Linked DNA regions of Homo sapiens. The protein of the gene in region 1 interacts with the protein of each later gene in a pairwise test. Each region holds a gene or a part of one and is shown in the gene's direction. Other genes may lie near its edges.

Region 1 (7,961 bases):
TGATACTACAATTTCAAAGTAATTATTCAGAACTCTGAATATAAAATAGCCCTAAATCTTAAAGGACAAATCAAATTTGAAATAAGAATTTAAATCTTTGGACAAGCTGTTAGGGCTTGGTGACTCCTCTTCTACTTTGAGCTTTTAAAATACTGACTGTTTATAATGAAGGAAAATAGCAACCAACTCTTTTAGACATAATAAACATGGTCAGAAGTTCTGGCCTATGACTTGAAACAAATAACCCTGAGCATTCATTTTTGAAAAACATTGTCAGATTCTTTGCTATAAGTATGAAGAGTTAATAATCTGGAAGGGAATTATAGAATTAAGCTGAACCCATGCCTGCATATTTAAAAAACAAAGCGGCTTATTTTAATGCTATCAAACTCTTCAGTATGGTATTGAATAGTCACTCATATATTCTAGCTAGGCATGTGGGTTTGTTATGATAAAAGCTGAACTTGTTCTCTCAATTTTAAGTGAAATAAATTAGTTGAGAAAAAATAATTATTTAAAATATAAGTCTTCATATTATTGTACAATATTTCTCCTTTGAGAAGATAGGATACATGATTTTCCCAAAAATCACAACTTTGAAGGAAGACTTAGTTGCTGACTTCAGTTATATCCTGGAACTGGCAAATTGTGCCCTTCCTTTGCTTCAAAAAAAGTGTAAGAAAGAGTGATAAGATCAACATTAATCATTCTTGGGTCTTTAGCAAATTCAGGATCAATGTAGAAAAACACTGGCATATCTACTTCCTCTTGGGGATTAAGCCTTTGTTCTTCAAAACAGAAGCACTGTATTTTATTGAAATACTGTCCAGCTTCAAATGGAACAACATTGTATGTAGAAATTCCAATTAGTGGTTTGTCAGCAGGATTCTTAGCTCTGTAAAACCCCAGTGCAGTGTCTCCTGGCACCACATATATTTCTGTTTGCTGAAGTCTAAAGTTCCACTGAAGACTTGCATGCACATCTGCATCAAAGTTAATTTTAATGATTCGATCCTTAACAGGCACCATGTTTTCAATCTGGTCTGAGGCATGACCTGAAACTGCTGATCCTCCAAGTCCAGTAGTCTGGCAATAGAGCCGATAAAGGGGAACGGCAGCGTAGGACGCCCCCAGCATGCCCACGGCGACAGCGGCCACGTTAAGTGAGGGTCGTCTTGTTCCGCCGCCCCCGCCGCTCCTCCTCCTGCGCGCGCCTGAAAGGGTTTGAGCTCTTAGACCGCCGCGGCGGCTGCAATGCTGGATACTGGGCTCAAAGGCTGCAGCGCTTCCATGTCTCAAGCCACCACAGTCGTCTCTGGGCACCTCCTGTCCCACTCCACTCTGGCCTAAGAAACCGCGCTACCCTCTCTGCAGCCGTGGCTGGAGACCCAGGGTGGATCCAGCGCCAGCCACAGAAAGCGACGCGCCTCCATCCCGGATGCCAGAGCCCTCCCATAACCCCCTGAACTAACAACCACCCGCCTCTCAGGGACGAGAGGTCAAATGTCGTGTTTTTTGTCTTCTTTTACTCACTATTCTGGCTCCTTTTACTATTATGTTTGTGAAATTTATCAACGTGGTTTGTAGCTGTAGTTCATTCATTTTCGTTGTTACATAGTATTCAGTTGTCTGAATAAACTTTTTTTTAAAACCCATCCTACTGTTAATGGACATTAGGGTTGTTTCCAGTTTAAAGCAATCACCAAAAAATGCTTCTAAGACATGTCTTTAGATGCAAGCACATATGCGTTTCTGGTGGCTGGGTCACAGAATACGCATACATTCAACTTTAGTAGATATGCCAGAGTTTCCCCAAAATGGTTTCACCAATGTACACTCTCATGAAAAATATGTGAAAATTCCCATTGTTCCATAATCCTTGCTGAAATTTGGCACTGTGAATCCATTTCTAGCAGGGATTTCAGCATTGCGTTTGTGATTCCTTAAGAAATATCAAAGGACCTATCATACTGGCAATATGTAAAAGCCTGAAAACATACAGATCATGAGGCTGTGTGAAGACAGGCACTCTCACACTTTGCTGTTGAGAGTACAAAATAACACAACCTCTACAAAAGTCTCTCTCTTATTGTTCATTGCAGCATTATTTGTTAAAGCAAAATATTGGAAGTAATCCAAATACCCACCCCCAAGAAACTGGTTAAAAAAATTATGGTACATCCACAGAATGAGTTATTATGCAGGTGTGAAAAAAGAGGACTACTTCAAAAACAGGACATTTCTAGGCTTTTCTGTTAGATGATAAAGCAAGGCATGAAAGAATGTATATAACATAACTTATGGGGTACAGAAGATAAATACTCATTTTTGCAAGAAAAAAGAGAAAAAGTAGGGAAGGGAGGAGGGAATGAAGAAGGAAGGAAGGAGAGGATAAATAAATAATGAAAATTGGGTATGAGTATATGTGGTAAAGGGACTGGGGATGGAAGCAGAACTCCTCTAAACATACCTTTTTATATAGTGTGGATTTTGAACTAAGTAAATGTTTTGAATTGTCAAAAAAATTAAAAAGGGATGAAAGCAAACCCTGAAATGGAATATAAACAGAAACAAATGCTCCTAACCATATATCGTTTAAAATATAACCACAGAGAAAATAATTAATTCAAATAAGGTATTTATACAGCTATACTCCCTTAATGGGATATAATTCAAAAACAAAACAAGCAAAGAAATTTTGAATTCTACATAGTAGATATGTTATTGCTAGTGATGTATTGGTATTATAATCTTGAAACTATTTTGTTTATAAGAAACTATTTTGTTTGAGTGAATTTATTTATGCTGTTGGGAGCCAGAGTTTTCACTGTGGGTGAAAAGAAAAAAAACAAATGTGCAACGGTGAAAAATGTAAAAGAATTCTGTGGAGTTGTTTTTGAACAGAAAGTATCTTATAAAATCCTCCATATATATATTATATATGTATATGGAGGATTTTATATCTGTATATAATATATATTATGTACATAATATATAGTATATAATATATTATATATGTTATATATAATACACATATATATAATATAAAATCCTCCGTATATAATATATAATATATAGGATAATATGTAATATGTATTATATATAATATATAATATATGATATATAGGATAATATATAATACGTATTATATATAATATATTATATATATAACATATTCATATATTCTAGCTCTTGTACACTGAAGGAGCCTAGAGGCAATAATATGTCCTAGTAGTGAGAGGTGAAGCTGGCTGGGCTTCCGGTTAGGGTGGGGACATGGAGAACTTTTCTGTCTAGCTAAAGGATTGTAAACACACCAATCAGCACTGTGTCTAGCTGAAGATTTGTAAATGCACCAATCAGCACTCTGTGTCTAGCTGAAGATTTGTAAATGCACCAATCAGCACTCTGTAAAAATGCACCAATCAGCACTCTGTGTCTAGCTAAAGGTTTGTAAACACACCAAGCGGCACTCTGTAAAGATGGACCAATCAGCACTCTGTAAAATGGGCCAATCAGCAGGATGTGGGCGGGGCTGAATAAGGGAATAAAAGCTGGCTACCACCCCCGCCCCAGTCAGCAGTGACAACCTGCTAGCATTGATTTTTGTGCTGTGGGATCTTTGTTCTTTCCCTTTTCACAATAAAACCTTACCACTTTTCAGTTTTTGGGTCTGCACTACTTTTAAGCATTGTAATGCTCACTACGATGGTCTGCAGCTTCAGTCCTTAAGTCAGCGAGACCACGAACCCACCAGAAGGAAGAAGCAACTGCAGGCACGCCACCCTTAGGAGTTGTAACACTCACTGCAAAGGTTTACGACCTCACTCCTGAAGTCAAGTGAGACCACGAACCCACCGGAAGGAAGAAACTCTGGACGCATCTGAACAGCAGAAGGAACAAAGTCCAGACACACCATCTTTAAGAACTGTAATGCTCACCGTGAGTATCCGCGGCTTCATTCTTGAAGTCAGAGCAGGAACCCACTGGAAGGAGCCAATTCTGGACACAGTAGACTGGCAGGAACCAATGCCAGACACAGTAGCAATGAGGTTATTCATTGCCCGAAATCCAGATCTTGGTTTCTATATACCATTTTTCACTGATGTACTGTAGCTTCATGAAGCAATGGTGATTCTAGGTTTAGGGTAGGAATAGTATAAAATGGGACTGAAATATCTTTTGTGAGAAAGTGAAGTGCACAAAAACTGTTGGGAACTTATCAAAGGACATAGAAACCTGTTTGTGGCCGGGTGCGGTGGCTCACTTCTGTAATCCCAGCCCTTTCGGAGGCCGAGGGAGCGGATCACTTGAGGGACAGGAGTTCAAGACCAGCCTCACTAAGGCATAGTGGTGTGTTCTTGTAATCCCAGATACTCAGGAGGCCGAGACAGGAGGATCACTTGAACCCGGAATGCGGAGGTTGCAGTGAGCTGAGATCGCATCCACTGCACTCCAGCCTGGAGACTTTGTCAAAAAAAGAAAAGAGAGGGAGCAGTGTGAAAGGGCTCCAACTGACCAAATTTTAAATAATTTGAGCATCAACATAATAATAACAGTAATTATTTGTAAAGGAATCCATGAGTTCATCGTGATAAAATGAGACGGCAGGGAAAAGAAAGGGTATTCTTTGCAGGAAATGGCAACTAATAAATGTAGAAATGTGCTTCAGTTTCCTCACCTGTTAAATGGAGATAATTGTACCTAACTCACAGGGTTGTTATGCGGGGTAATGAATTAATACGTGTTAAAACACTATGTTGGCCGTTATTATATTGCCGCGTGGAAGACAATGTGTCACCTAGTATCTCACTTAAGACTACAGACGGGATTCAGAGTGACGACCACAGAGGTGTGGAAACCTCCGGCCTTCCTAGAAGGAACACAGCCGGAACCGCTGTTTCGCGGAGAGCGGGCCGCGGTGACGCATTTCCGGCCTTTGTAGTTTATCATTCTTTGGGCTGCGGTTGTCAAGGATTCAGAGCAGATGTGATCTGCGCTAGGTGGCATCTCCTCTCACGGATGCCTCGGTGAGCTTCGGAGTCGGGCTACCGCTGAGGGGCTTCGGAAGGGCCAGTCTGTGCACTGCGACCTGGACTGGGTGTGGGGATTTGGCGGCAGGGTCTTCTTGGCCAGAGATGGGCCGGGCAGGTGAAGGGCAGAGGAGGTTGCTCCGCAGCCTGGAAGGGCTTTGTTAACCAAAAGTCAGCGTCGTTGCCCCTACCCCTTTCCCCCACCCTATGTCTGTTCCTGAGCTCTTCAACCTCTCTGCCCTGTACTGATGGCACTCTGAACTCTCCGTATCTGCATCTTAGGATTCAAATAGATTCGGATATGAAGAAATGTTTGTATTTTCCGATGTCTTATTCTCTACTGTGGACTTATTTTAAAGAATGAGCAGGGATAGTTTTAAACTATGCCACAGCCTTTCTTAGTCTAACTCACATAGTATAAAGGCTCTTGCTGCTATCGAATTTTTTAAAAGAATAAATAGCATCTACTATGTGCCAGCCCAGCACTGTTCTAAGCACTTTACAAATATTATCTGCTTCTCATAACTCTATGAGATAGACACTATTATTATGTAGACTACACCCCACCTCTCTGTCCCGCCCCTTTTTAAAATTAACATACAAGAAGAAAATGAAGTTAGTAACTTGCCCAAGGTCGTAGAGCGAGTAAGGGGTGTAGGCAGGATTCAAATACAGGCAATTTGGCTCCAGACTCCATTTTCTTAAAACCTTTGCTATGCTAACTCCACTCTGTTCCTATATTAGCTTTACAGCTATAACCCGGGAAGTTACTTCGCTCATTTGAATCCCGTCCTTCTTTTGTACCTCAGTAGTCCTGGGCTTCTAGTTAGGATTTGATTGGAGAGAATATATCTGAAGACGTATATCTTTCAGTGTTTCTGCAAACCTGATGAAACAGCCGTTTTATTGGTTTGTGTGCATGTTTTCACCCACTCATCTTGTTCTTTGAGCAATAGAAAAAGATTACAGTCTTGGCCCTAAGGGAAAGTAGCAACTATTAATTAAACTACCATTGTACCAAAATTGTACATTATCTTATTAAAAGATTAATTTGCATGTTTATATGCCAGGTTTTGTGCAAAAACACTTTGTATGCATTATCTCATTTAATATTCTCAACAAGTTGGCAAGGCAGTTGTTGACCTCATTTCATATATGAGCTTGAGGCTTAGAAAAATCAACTAACTTGCCCAAGATCACTGCGTTAAAATTCACAGATGGCCTGGCACTATGGTTCATGCCTGTAATCCCAGCACTTTGGGAGGCCGAGGTGGGCAGATCACGTGAGGTCGGGAGTTCGAGACCAGCCTGACCCATATGGTGAAACTCCATCCTACTAAAAATGCAAAAATGAGCCAGGAGTGGTGGTGGGTCCCTGTAATCCCAGCTACTCCGGAAGCTGAGGCAGGAGGATTGCTTGAACCTGGGAGGCAGAGGTTGCAAGTGAGCCGAGATCGCACCACTGCACTCCCGCCTGGGCAACAAAAGCAAGACTCTGTCTCAAAAAAAAAAAAAAAAAAATTAACAACCAGATCTGCCTGTGTTCTCTGCTATCTCATACTACCTTCTGCTTGTCTAAGGTAAATAAAATATATGGGCTTATATCAACTCTATGTGTGCACATGTGTATACATGTGTATATACGATTGCAAATGCATAGAAAAGGACACATTCCAGTATTTAAGACTGTTTATTTCAGGGTAATAGAACTTGGTGAAAGAATTCTATATTCCTCTCTACTTTTTGGATTTAAAAAAGGTTCTGAAGAGAAGTAATGGTACAAGATAAATTGTGACTGAGGGTGAAAGGTGGGACTCATACAGTACATGACATATGAGTGGGCAGTTGGAAGAGGGTGAGCTGAAATGGGTAAAGAAGACTTCAGAGAGGATGTGAGATTTGAATCAAGCTGCAGAGATTGGGTAAGGTTCGAATAAGGGAAGAAGGCAAGACCAAGCTCATGGCGCAGGGATGAGAAACGCCTGATTAGAATAATGAGAAGAAAAACCTGACTGGAGCTGAGAGTTTTTGCTTGTGGAATAGAGGAAACCAAGAGTGGAGCCAGACAACAGAAGCTAAAGGTCTGACTGGTTTTAAACTGTGCTTGAGAGTTTGGGAATTCATCCAATTAGTGAGGAGCCATAGATGGTGTCAGCGGAGGTGAGGGTCGTGGGATATATGATGATAAAGGCACATTTGTATTACATGCTGCTTAGTCTTCACCTACGTGCATGTCCTTGGTTAACAGCATCCTTCCATGAGGATGATGGTAGATTTGGGGGTGTTCAGCTTGCTGAGGCTCTAGGAGGAACCAACTTTAAAATGCAGATGTATTTTTTAAGGTAAGACTTATTATGCTAATTATATACCTGGCATATACATTGAGGTTGTGATCCTGAATGGAAGATTAGGAACTCTATGTTTGTGACGAGGAGGGCAGTATTACAAAAAACTGGGGAAGCCTTTTGGAGACACCAGGTTCAAAGAAGAACTCAGGTATGCTGGTGCAAGGATCTGGGTATTAAGGCCACCAGATAAAAGCAAAATCAGGTGAAGGAAAGCAAAAATGAACCCAGAGTATACAGAGAAAATAGGGAAATTTGTATTTGGGAAACTGTATAAAGATTTGAAACACCACATCCCAGAAATGAATTTTTCTGGGCAGAGCTCTAAGCTTCAGCTGCATTGCCTTTGAATAGAAAAACTTTGACTTGAAACCAAGCGGCACAGGTGGTAAATAAGAAAAAGACATTTTCGGACCCTAAAAGATTGAAAAAACAAGAAAGCATAAGTGGCTGTTTCATCCTTTGAATCCATGGTACGTTTATTGAGTAATGTGAGAGTACATATTCTGGATTTAGCTATTTGATATTTCTACCACAAAACTTTCTTACCCTAGAACCAATTCAGCAGATCATGTTTCAAGCC
Region 2 (7,026 bases), on another chromosome or scaffold:
AGCTAATTTTATACATTTTTAATAGTTTTATGCATGAAATGAAGTTGTGACTGTGACCTGTCACATAAGGTCAGGTGTGGAATTTTCTACTTGTGGTGTCAAGTTGGTGCTCAAAAAGTTTTGGATTTTGGAGCATTTTGGATTTCAAATATTCATATTAGGAACGTTCAACCCGTACCAGCTTTATTTTGGTTAGGTTAGCATTTCCTTTACTTTTCTATTTTTTGTTATTTAACAAAATCTTTTTAGCGTAAAATGAAATTTTTGTTATAAATCACATACCAAATGTATAGCTTAATAAATTATTACAGGACCATACCATTCAGGTATGCCAGATCCCCTCCATTACCCTATCCCAGTCAAAACTCCTGTGTTCCCATTTAGTCACCATTCTTCTGGGTTTTATAGTTTTGTAGTAATCACTTCCCTGTTTTTTTTTTATTATTTATTTATGAGATAGAGTCTCATTCTGTTGTCCAGGCTGGAGTGCAGTGGCACGATCTCAGCTGTCTGCAACCTCTGTCTCCTGGGTTCAAGTGATTCTCCTGCCTCAGCCTCCTAAGTAGCTGGGATTATAGGCACACACCACCAGGATCGGCTATTTTTTTTTTTTTTTTAGTATTTTTAGTAGAAACGGGGTATCACCATGTTGGCCAAGCTGCACTGTGAGCCTGGCCTCCTAGTTTTTGATAGCTTCCTTGTTATATAATATATTGAACAATTCCTATCGCAGATATGAAATCAGCCATTTCTTTAAAATGCCCGGGTTTCATTTAGAGGGAAATAATATTTCAGTTACAGTCTGAATGCTAAAGATCCTGAGTTAGTCACTGTTTCAGGCATTTCAGTAGACAGAGCTAGGATACCTGTATCTGTCTATAGACACACATGTTAAAAGATACCTAATGTATTCTACTTCCAGTCTTCAGATTGAGATTACAGAGCTTTTACTTAACAACTTCTCTATCACAACTGTAACTCCTTTTTTCCATACTGAGAATCATGATTCTCAAGAATATAGGAGAAAATAGAATATTCCATATTTACTCATTATTCTGTATTATACATATGACAGTATCAGAACTATATTTCTGAAATCACCATCAATATGATTACTGAAAACATTAAACCTTTTTTTTTTGGCTTATGTTCTTCTCATTTTTTCTTCTCTCTCTGTTTTAACAGTTATGCTCTATCTGCATTGTCAGAGTATATAGCCATTTCATGTTCTGCTTTTTCCCTCTTAGCCTATTAGTTCTATTAATATATTTAATGTTTACCACCAGTGTTTATGCTGAGGTCTCTCTAGGCATTTTGGCTACCTGAAGCTAATACATTGTTAGATTCCTCGGGAAGTAATATTGTCTGAGTTCTTATATATTGATCAAAGTTTATTCTTTTTATACTTCAAAGTCAATTTTGCAGATATAAAGTCTTTGGCTCACACTTCTTTTCCGTGAATTTCTTAAATACATTACTCCTTTTTCTTCTGGAATAAAGTATTGGTATCAAAGTCAGATTATTATCTAATTTTTCTTCTTCTTATAAGTCATGTGGGTTTTTTTCTTGTAGATAACCAAATAATTTGTTTTCTTTTTTTCTTTTTGAGATACAGTCTTACTCTGTCACCCTGGCTGTAGTGCAGTGGTATGATCTTGGCTCACTGCAGCCTCCACCTCCTGGGTTCAAGCAGTCCTCCCACCTCAGCCTCCTGAGTAGCTAGGACTACAGGTGTATGCTGCCACACCCAGCTAATTTTTTTTTTTTTTTTTCTTGAGAGACAGGGTTTTGCCAAGTTGCCCAGGCTGGTCATGAACCCAGGCTCAAGTGATCCACCTGCCTCAGGCTTCCAAAGTGCTGAGATTACAGGCATGAGCCACTACGCCCAGCCAAATTTTTTCTTTTTCATTAAAGTCTGCTAATAATATTAGAATATATCACTGTGTTGGTTGTTTTGGGTCAGTATTCTCAGGTACTTCATATTTTCTTTCCATTTGTAGTTTCAAATCTTTTTTTAAATTTCAGGAAAACTTTATTTTTAAAACAGCTTTATTGATATATTTAATATACAATAAGCTGCACATATGTAGTATAAGTTTTGACTTACATATACACCTATGAAACCACCCCAATCAGGATTGTCAATATATCCATCATCCCCCCAAATTCCCTTGTTCTCGTTAGTAGTCTCTGTGTCTAGCCTCCAATTCTCTCAGCAACCACTGATCTGCTTTCTATCACCACAGTTGGTTTTCATTTTCTAGAGTTTTATATAAATGGAATGTTATAGTATGTACTATTTTATGGCTGGCTTTCAGCGTAATTATTTTGACATTTATCCATGTTGCACATATTCTTTTTTATTGCTGAGGGGTATTCCATCCAATGGGTATACCACAGTTTGTGTGTCTGTTCACCTGCTGCTGGACATTTGAGTTGTTTCCAGTTTCTGGCTATTATAGATAAAGCTCTTACGAACATTTGTGTACAGTCTTTGTGTGGACATAATGCTTTCATTTCTCTTGGGTAAATTCTAGGAATGGCATGACTGGGTCTTATGGTAAGTGCTTATTAACCTTTTAAGAAATAGCCAAAGTGATTTACAAAGTGGTTGTACTAGTTTAAATTCCCGTCGGCAGTATATGAGAGTTCTAGTTCCCTCACATCCTCGAAAACACTTGGTCTAGTCATTCTTAGCCATTCTAATATGTGTAGTGGTGTCACATCGTGTGTTTTAATTTGCATTTCCCTCCTGACTAACAATGTTTAGCATCTTTTTGTGTGCCTAGCTGCCATCTGTATGTCTTCTTTTGTGAAATGTCTATTGAAATTTTTTGACCATTTTTAAGTTCAGTTGTTTACTTCTTGTTGATGTTAACTTCCTTACTAAGTTTTGAGAGTTCCCTATATATTCTGGATATGAACCTTTTCTGATTCCTGACTATTTTCTCTGAGTATGTGGTTTCTCTTTTCATTCTCAGAATGTTATATTTTAAAGAGCAGACATTATTTTTATGAAGCCCCATTTGTTCTTGAATTGTATCATGCTTTTGGTGTCATATCATAGACATGTTTGCCTAACTCAAGGCCATACAGTTTTTCTGTGTTTTTCTAGACATGTTGTGATTTTAAGTTTTAGATTTATGTCATTCATTTTAATTTTTTTGTATATGGTGTGAGATATGGCTGAAAGTCCTGTTTCTTTCTCTTTTTTTTGTACATGGGCATCCCATTGTTCTAGCATCATTTATTGAAAAAAAAAAACTATCGTTTTTCCTGCTAAATTACCTTCGTATCTTTGGTGAAAATTAGTTGTCCATATATGTATGAGTCTGTTTCTGGAATCTATTTAGTTTCATTAATCTGTTTGTCTATCTTGATATCAATGCTATATTGTCTTGATTACTATAGCTTTATAAACCTTGAAATGATATAGTATTAGTCCTTCAACTTTGTTCTTCTTTTTCATTCATTCATTTATTAATTTAGAGATAGGGTCTTGCTTTGTCACCCAGCCTAGAGTGCAGTGGCACAATCATAGCTCACTGATTAAACTCCTGGGTTCAAGTTGTCTTCCCACCTCAGCCACCTAAGTAGCGAGGACTACAGGTTCATGCCACAATGCCTGGCTAATCTTTTTTTTGTAGAGATGGGGTCTTGCTATGTTGCCCAGTCTGGTCTTGAATTCCTGGGCCTCAAGCTGTCCTCCTGCCTCAGCCTCCCAGAGTGCTGGGATTACAGGTGTGAGCCACCATGGCCAGCCTGTTCTTTTTCAAAGTTGTTTTGTCTTTTATAGATCTTTTGCAGCTCTGTATGAATTTTAAAATCAGGAAAGTTTCCTGAATTATAGTTTTTTTAATTGGTTCTGTTGTTTTAGTTTTCTTTTTCAATTACCACTATTATGTGTATGTTTGAGCTTCTTTGCCTATCTTTGTCATTTTCATATTTCTTCTTCATTTCTTTTTAATTTTTTAAAATTGTTTTCCTTTTAATCTCTATTTCTCTTAAGGCATTGTCTGTAGTCTTTACTCATTCATTTTCCTTCTTTAATCTTCATTTCAGAAATAATTAGTTTTTAAAAGTTACTAATTTCTAGATTCTATCAGCTCATTTCCAAGTTTTATTTCTAATTATGTTGTTTATGTCTTACAGAGTTTTACATGTATTTTAGTTTGTTTTAATATAGAGGTTATAGTTCCTATCTGTTTTGTGAGCACGTCTTTCTAGTATATTTTTCTTGTCTGTAGAGATTTTTTTTAATATGAACTTTTACAATTTAAAATTTTTTTAATTTCATGGGTGCACAGATGTGTATGTTTATGGGTTACATGGGATATTTTGATACACCATATAATATATAATAATCATATCAGGGTAAATGAGGTAGCCACCATCTTAAGCATTTATCCTTTGTGTTAGAAACAATCCAATTATTCTCTTTTAGTTACTTAAAAGTGTGCAATTATATTATTATTGAATATAGTCAACCCATTGTGCTAGCAAATATTAGATCTTATTCTTTTTTTCTATTTTTTTGTACCCATTGACCATCCCCTCTTCCTTTCAGCCCACCTGTTACTCTTCCCAGCCTTTGGTAACCATCCTTCTACTCTGTGTCTCCATGAGTTCAATTGTTTTGATTTTTGGATCCCACAAATAAATGAGAACATGTGATGTTTGTCTTTCTGTGCCTGGCTTATTTCACTTAAAATAATGACTTCCAGTTCCATCCATGTTGTTGCAAATGACAGGAGCTCATTCTTTTTTTATGGCTGAGTAGTACTCCATTATGTATATGTACCAGATTTTCTTTATCCATTTGTCTGTCAGTGGACACTTGGGTTGCTTCCAAATCTTGGCTTTTGTGAATAATGCTGCAGTAAACATGAGAGTGCAGATATCTCTTTAATATGCTGATTTCCTACCAAAAATATAAAAAATTGGCCAGTGTGGTGGCATGTGCCTATAATCCCAGCTACTCAGGAGGCTGAGGCAGGAGAATCGCTTGAACCTGGGAGGCAGAGGTTGCAGTGAGCCGAGATTGTGCCACTGCACTCCAGCCTGGGCGACAGAGTGAGACTCAAAAAAAAAAAGTTGTTTCAGATCCTTATACATCCTGGCTATTAACCCTCGTCAGATGGGTAGTTTACAAATATTTTCTCCCATTCTGTGGGTTGTCTCTTCACTTTGTTGTTTCCTTTGCCGTGCAGAAGCTTTTTAACTCAATGTGACCCCACCTGTCTATTTTTGCTTTGGTTGCCTGTGCTTGTGGTATATTACTCAAGAAATCTTTGCCCAATCCAATGTCCTGGAGAGTTTCCCCAATTTTTTTGTAGTACTTTCATAGTTTGAGGGCTTAGATTTAAGTCTTGATTCATTTTTATTTGATTTTTGTATATGGTGAGAGATAGGGGTCTAGTTCCATTCTTCTGCATATGGATATCCCAGCACCATTCATTGAAGAGACTTTTCTTTCCCCAATGTATGTTCTTGGCACCTTTGTCAATAATGAGTTCACTGTCAGTATGTGGATTTGTTTCTGGGTTTTCTGTTCTGTTCCATTGGTCTATGTGTCTGTTTTGGTGGCAGTAGTATGCTGTTTTAGTTAATATAGCTCTGCAATATAATTTGAAGTCAGTTAATGTGATTCCTCCAGTTTTATTCTTTTTGCTCAGGATAGCTTTGGCTATTCTGGGTCTTTTGTGCTTTAAATTTTAGGATTATTTTGTCTATTTCTGTGAAGAATGTCATTGGTATTTTGCTAGGCATTTGCATTGAATCTGTAGATTGCTTTGAGTAATATAGATATTTTAACAATATTGATTGTTTCAATCTATGAACATGGAATATCTTTTCATTTTTTTGTGGCCTCTTCAATTTCTGTCATCAGTATTTTATAATTTTCATTGTAGAGATGTTTTACTTCATTGGTTCAGTTAATTCCTAGGTGTTTAATTTTCTTTGTGGCTATTGTAAATGGGATTACTGTTTTGATTTCTTTTTCAGATTGTCCTTGTTGGTTTATAGAAATGCTACTGATTTTTCTAAGCTGATTTTGTGTCTTGCAGCTTTACTGAATTTGTTTACCAGTTCAAATAGCTTTTTGGTGGAGTCTTCAGGTTTTTCCAAATATAAGATCATGTCACCTGCAAACAAGGATAATTTGATTTCAAATTTTGATGGCCTTTTTTTCCTTTCTCATGTCTAACTGCTAGCTAGAGCAATTCCAGTCCTTTTTCATCTCTAGCTAGAGCAATTCTAGTCCTAACTACAGCAATTCCAGTCCTTTTTCATCTCTGATTTTATTTGAATCTTTTTTCCTTTCTTCCTTCATAGTCTGGCTAAAGGTTTGTCAATTTTTTATCCTTGTTCTGTTCTAGATCTTAGAGGAAAGGCTTTCAGTTTTTCCCGATTCAGTGTGATACTGCCTGTGGGTCTGTCATACATGGCTTTTATTATGTGGAGGTATGTTCCTTTTATACCTAGTTTTTTTAGGGTTTTTTTTTTAAATCATGAAGGAATGTTGAATTTTATCAAGTGCTTTTTCAGTATCAGTTGAAACGATCATATGGTTTTTGTCTTTCAGTCTGTTGATAATGATGTATCACATTGATTGATTTGCATATGTTGAATCATCCTTTCATCCCTGGGATAAATCCCACTTGTTGATGATGAATGATCTTTTTAATGTGTTGTTGAATTTGGTTTGCTAGTATTTTGTTGAAGATTTTTGCATCAATATTAATCAGGGATATTGGCCTGTAGGTTTTTCTCTCTCTCTCTCTTTTTTTTTTTTTTTTTTGATATGTCTTTGTCTGGTTTTGGTATCAGGGTAATACTGGCCTCATAGAATGAGTTTGGATGTATTCCCTCCTCTTCCATTCTTCAGAATAGTTTGAGTAGGGTTGGTGTTAATTCTTTAAATGTTTGGTAGAATTCAGCAGTGAAGCCATGGAGTCCGAGGCTTTTCTTTGCTGGAGGACTTTTTATTATAGCTTCAATGTTGTTAGTTGTTATTGGTCTGTT
Region 3 (6,057 bases), on another chromosome or scaffold:
CAGAACCATCCTGTGTGGTAGTTACTATTTCCAGGCTCAGAAAGATAAGTGATTACCCAAAGCCATGTCATAAAATAACTCATAGCAGTTCTATTTGTAACAGCTCAAAGGTGGAGACAACCCAAATGTCCTTCAATGGATGGTTAAATATACCATGGTACATCTATACCATAGATTACTACTCAGCAATAAAAAGGACAAACTATTGATACAAGCAACCACTTGGGTGAATCTCCAGGGAATTGTGCCAAGTGGAAAGAGCCAAGCCCAAATGATTATACACTATATGATTCCAGGTATGTAACATTTTTTAAATAACACAGTTATAGACATGGAGAATAGATTAGTGGTTGCCTGTGGTTAGGGATAGGGGAAGGGAAGATGAATGGATGCAATTATAAAGAGATAGCACGAGGGATCTCTGTGGTGATCAGACAGTTCTAGATATTGTGGTAGTAGTTGCATTAATCCACACACGATAAAATTGCATAGACCTACACACACACACACACACACAAATGCATGTATGTAAAACTGGGAAAATGTGAATAAAGTCTGTGGATTGTACCAATGTCAATTTCCTGGTTTTGATATTGTACTATAGTTATGCAAGATGTTACCATTAGGGAAAACTGACTGAAGGGTACATGAAACCTCTCTGAACTATTTTTGCAACCTTCTATGAATCTATAATTATTTCCAAATAAAAAACTTATTTATTTTTTTGAGATGAAGTCTCACACTGTCACCCAGGCTGGAGTGCAGTGGCACGATCTCAGCTCACTGCAACCTCTGCCTCCCGGGTTCAAGTGATTCTTCTGCCTCAGCCTCCCAAGTAGCTCGGATTACAGGTACCTGCCACCATGCCCAGCTAATTTTTTGTATTTTTAGTAGATATGGGATTTCACTATATTGGCCAGGCTGGTCTCAAACTCCTGAACTCGTGATCCGCCTGCCTCGGCCTCCCAAAGTGCTGGGATTACAGGCATGAGCCACCATGCTTGGCCAATGAAAAGCTTTTTAAAAGACGTATTCTCCAGTGTGATGGCTCTGATAAAAAAGAAAATAAGTATCCAAGCTTCTTTTCCACAACCCTCAACAACCAAGTGCCATCAAAAGGCACTGAGGTCTCTGAAAGAGTCTGGGACTCATATGAGAGCTCTGCCTTCTCAGGGATGGTCTGCAATCCACATTTGTCCTCTTTCCTTTAATCAACACTGAAGCTACCTAGGAGTCAGGCCTTGTGTTGGAAGCTAAGTGATATGAGATGAATGAGTTATGATCCCTTCCCAAGTGAACTCCCAATCTAGGGATAAAGAGGCCTAATAAGATAAGAGTTTGGACTAAAAGTCAAAAGATTTCTGTCCTCATGAAACCACTTACTAGCTTTCTTATTTTGGACCAATCCTTCATCTTCTGACATCTTGGTTTCTCAATCTGCAAAATTCAAAAGAATGAAATATAAATGTATATTTTAAGCTTAATCTGGGACTTCTGGGAGGGTTCAAGGATATATGTAAATTACATGAAAGTAGATAACTGCATCCCTTTTCGAAGAAGAGGCATTATATGTTTTTTTTCAGATTCTGGGAATCTGAATGTTTTAACTTTTATCATGGACATTTTCAAGCATATACCAAAGTAGAGTGTACATACTGCCAATCTTTCAAGCCTTCTAAAGTGCTGAGATTACAGGCATGAGCCACCGAGCCCAGCTAATTTTTTGTATTTTTAGTAGAGACAGGGTTTCATCATGTTGCCCAGGCTGGTCTTGAACTCCTGAGCTCAGGTGATCCGCCTGCCTATGCCTCCCAAAGTGCTGGGATTACAGGCATGAGCCACCGCGCCCGGCCAACTACTGAGCCAATCTTGTTTCATTTATTCCCTCCACATTATTTTTTTACTGCTGAATCACTTTAAAGCAGGCTTACCGGCCCACAAAGGGCTGGATTTTTAAATTCCATTTCTAAGGGCCCTTCCAGTCTGACATTCAATGATTCTAATAGATCTCTCAGGTCCCTCCTCCTATCTCTAATAATTCACGATTTCAATAGGGATGGAAGAAATAGACTAGAGATCTAACATAACATCTCATGATTCCAGGTGCCACAAAAGTTCATTCCCTTTCACAAGAAGATAATAACTAAATTTTAAACATGGAATTCTAGGACATTTATGATTTAACCCCCACCAGTGTTCCAACCTCATCTCTCACCCCTTCTCCAGATCCCAACCACTTTCCCATATAGCCTGCAGTTTCCACAGTTTTGCTCCTACTCACTATGTGCCTTTGTACAGGCAGTACCTTCTACCTGGAATGTCCCTGAGCCCCACCCATTTTGTTCTTGAGTCTCAGCTTGAAGTCTCCTCCCCAGTGAAGACTTCTATCACCTCTTGCCTCCACAGAAGGGTTAGTGTGCTCCCTTAGGCCTAGAAACTGAGTACCTGTTACCACACAGGGAATAGCACTGTTGGTCACTCTGGGCAGCAAACCCAACTACTGAGGGGCCAGACAGAAGTCAAGGTTTGAAGCCAGTAGGCATAACAAACACTAAGACCCTGCTTTCTCACCTCTAAAAAGAAAAGAGAGAAAAATATCAACTCTAAATAAAGCAACAACCTGAGAGCAACAGTAAATGCAAACAACATTCTATTTCAGAGAACCATAGGGAATGGTTGAGATTGAGACCAAATGGGACAGAGTATCTTGTCTAAAGGAAGTCGTCTCTACTCAGTGTCAGCTGATTGTTGACCAGCAGGAATTTGGGTCCAGTGTGGCCAGCTCTTCCGTTTTTTCAAGAAAAATTAGAAATCCAGATTTGCATGTGAAATCTCCCAATTTTTACATGTCAGCAACTAAAAAACATTAAAGGCCCACTGCAACGACTTTCAAGGTTTTCAGGCTATGGAAATGATTTCATGAGGGTCCACTTCTACCCATCCAAAGGAAACATCCTATGGTAGGGGTAAGTTTTATATCAGGGCTAATGGCATGTTAATGGTTGTTAAACCTGCTCCTCCATCCTGCACGGGCTCAAAAGGACTGCAAGGTCATAGAAAACCTTTCATATGAGGCCCCTGTCCTTTGAGGGCCTCAGTTTCCCCTTCTGTAAAATGAGGATATAAAACCTATTTGTGGCCCGGCACGGTGGCTCACGCCTGTAATGCCAGCACTTTGGGAGGCTGAGGAGAGTGGATCACCTGAGGTCAAGAGTTCGAGACCAGTCTGGCCAACACGGTGAAACTCCATCTGTACCAAAAATATAAAATATTAGCCGGGTGTGGTGGTGGGCGCCTGTAATCCCAGCTACTCGGGAGGCGGAGGGAGGAGAATCGCTTGAACCCGGTAGGCGGAGGACTCAGTCTCAAAACAAAAACAAAAACAAAAACAAAACTATTTGTGAGTCAGCTACCAAACAGAAAACCACCTGGCCGAGGGCTGTCAGGGCCACGTGCTTTTACCTACATCATCTCACTGAATTCTCAATTACCTCTGAGAGGTAAGTTCTATTACATCCACATTTTACTGATAAGAAAACAGTAGCTCAGAGATAGCAAGCAGTTTACCTAATAAAAACAAGAGCAAACTTCTTAAAAGCCCTTTCTCTCCAACGGCTTAATTTATTTAATCCTCCTAACAACTCTGAGCTGGGTATCGTCAAAGGGGATTCCACCAAGGTAGCCTCACTCCAACACTCTAACCCAAGGCTGCTCAACAGAAATATAATGTAAACTGCACATGCAATTTAAATGTTTTTAGAAGCTGCATTTAAAAAGTAAAAACACAGGTGAAATTAATAACATTTTTATTTGACCCAATATATGCAAAACATTATATTCCAACATGTAATCAGTATTAAAAAGTATTGAGATAATTTTTACATCAGTTTTTTCGTACTAAGTCCCGTATTTTACAATATAGCACATCTCAATTCGCTATATTTCGAGGGTTATCAACTAGCTACGTTGCAAGAGCTGAGTCAACTCAGGAGGCCAGCGGCCACCATAAGGGGCAATGCATTTAGAGTTCACTTATTAAATGCTGACGTTAACAGAACCCACAGAGCCGCATTTCCCTTGGTTTCGGAGGACACGCGAAAAATAACAACAGCAAAGGGTTCTCGAGCATCTCCTTCGCGCCAGACGGTGTGTTGTACTTTGTCATCGTCGCAGTAAGGCCGGTGCTATCGCCCTCCTAGTTTGACCAAGCGAGAGGACTTTCTCCAGATGGGCCCCTCCCGAGAGAATGGTCGCCGTCCCGCTCTCCTGTTCGGGTCACCACCGGCCGGGCGCCACTCGAACGAGCCCCGGCCAGCCGTCACCCTAATCATTCCCGAAGGAGGGGCCATCAGAGCTACAGCTCATCAGGGTCAATCAGAAGGGGCGCCCGCACGCAAAGGTCACCTGCAAACCGAAGCGGCGCACGGATAAGGTCCGGGACTTGAAGTCTATCTCCAAACATTCAGGCTCCTCCTCCGACTCCTCCTCGAACTGGCGCTCAGAGGCGCCACCATTCGGAAGGAGCCCAGGCCACGCGCAGCTCGCCCTCCCGCACCGCGAGGGCAGCAGCCGCCTCATGCGACTCGAGAACGCTAGAGGGCGCCGCTTCCGGGAGCCCGCAAGCGGCTTCCGGGTGCTCGCGCGCCGACCTGGACGCAGAGAAGCCAGAGACTTTCGCTTCCGGCTGCCGCAGGCGCTTCGCTGGTGCAGGTAAGCTCCGCACACTCTCGGCCGGTCCCGAGTCCGACTCCCTCAAGGGTGACGCGAGCTCTGCCCTTTAACCGGAAACGTCTCCCTGCTCACCCCACCCCCGCGCAGACGCAGTGCTGAGCACACAGCTACCGGACAAAGAGTGACGCCCGGAGCTGGAGTTATGGCGGCTACGGAGCCGATCTTGGCGGCCACTGGGAGTCCCGCGGCGGTGCCACCGGAGAAACTGGAAGGAGCCGGTTCGAGCTCAGCCCCTGAGCGTAACTGTGTGGGCTCCTCGCTGCCAGAGGCCTCACCGCCTGCCCCTGAGCCTTCCAGTCCCAACGCCGCGGTCCCTGAAGCCATCCCTACGCCCCGAGCTGCGGCCTCCGCGGCCCTGGAGCTGCCTCTCGGGCCCGCACCCGTGAGCGTAGCGCCTCAGGCCGAAGCTGAAGCGCGCTCCACACCAGGCCCCGCCGGCTCTAGACTCGGTCCCGAGACGTTCCGCCAGCGTTTCCGGCAGTTCCGCTACCAGGATGCGGCGGGTCCCCGGGAGGCTTTCCGGCAGCTGCGGGAGCTGTCCCGCCAGTGGCTGCGGCCTGACATCCGCACCAAGGAGCAGATCGTGGAGATGCTGGTGCAAGAGCAGCTGCTCGCCATCCTGCCCGAGGCGGCTCGGGCCCGGCGGATCCGCCGCCGCACGGATGTGCGCATCACTGGCTGAGCGGTGGAGCTGCGGGCGGCCAGGGCCGGGCGCTCTGTGCGGACTGGGGCCATGATCGGGCCCGGGGGCCTGAGCCTGGGACCCCACCCCGTGTTAATGAAAAATGAGTTTTGGCAGCGCCTGTGGTCTGGTGTGTCTCTTTCATTCGTTCTTATTGGGTTTATTTTACCAAGCCTGTTTCCTACCGCCTTTCTGGCTGGTGGCGAAACGAAGTTGGGAGTCCGTAACAATAAGGCCTTCGTTGGCTATAGTGGGATCTTTAGATGTTGACTGAACCTAGGTTATCCCTCTACCACACATGGGAAGTTTTTCACCTGGGCTCCCAAGGACCCACTTGGGTTTCTTACACGCAAAATAGCTGGCTCTATTAAATGCTCACTTAACTGGCTACCTCTATACCAATATGGGCACCAACTTGCACCTGCCCTTTGGGTACAGGCTTCCCAAAATGTCCAAGTTACTGGGCCATTTTAATGTGAAGTGTTTACTGCACACCTTCACAGAGATAGGCTAGTTCTTGTGAGCTCTGGCTTATGCCGCCAGGCTTGCTCAACTTCCTTGCCAAATTTTAGGCCTGTGGTAGGAATAAAGCAGAACTAGTTGAAGTAATGGATTATTTACATTACTGAAGCTACTCATTTTAA

Evidence for each region. The genes of interacting proteins can lie anywhere in the genome.
Region 2: the proteins of ZSCAN23 (region 1) and CEP70 interact in binary tests that used the Homo sapiens proteins (3 or more experiments, as listed by UniProt).
Region 3: the proteins of ZSCAN23 (region 1) and SCAND1 interact in binary tests that used the Homo sapiens proteins (3 or more experiments, as listed by UniProt).

Annotation. Positions count from the first base shown.
Region 1 is NC_000006.12:28,440,468-28,448,428, reverse strand, and holds the start of ZSCAN23 (zinc finger and SCAN domain-containing protein 23), read left to right. Parts: upstream 1-4,937; 5' UTR 4,938-5,030; exon of another isoform or gene 5,031-7,961. UniProt on the Homo sapiens protein: May be involved in transcriptional regulation.
Region 2 is NC_000003.12:138,584,238-138,591,263, reverse strand, and holds part of CEP70 (centrosomal protein of 70 kDa), read left to right. Parts: intron 1-7,026.
Region 3 is NC_000020.11:35,953,101-35,959,157, reverse strand, and holds SCAND1 (SCAN domain-containing protein 1), read left to right. Parts: upstream 1-4,655; 5' UTR 4,656-4,710; exon of another isoform or gene 4,711-4,818; 5' UTR 4,819-4,873; coding exon 4,874-5,413; 3' UTR 5,414-5,534; downstream 5,535-6,057. Other genes in the region: CNBD2 (cyclic nucleotide-binding domain-containing protein 2), read right to left, coding at 1,384-1,437, 4,405-4,578. UniProt on the Homo sapiens protein: May regulate transcriptional activity.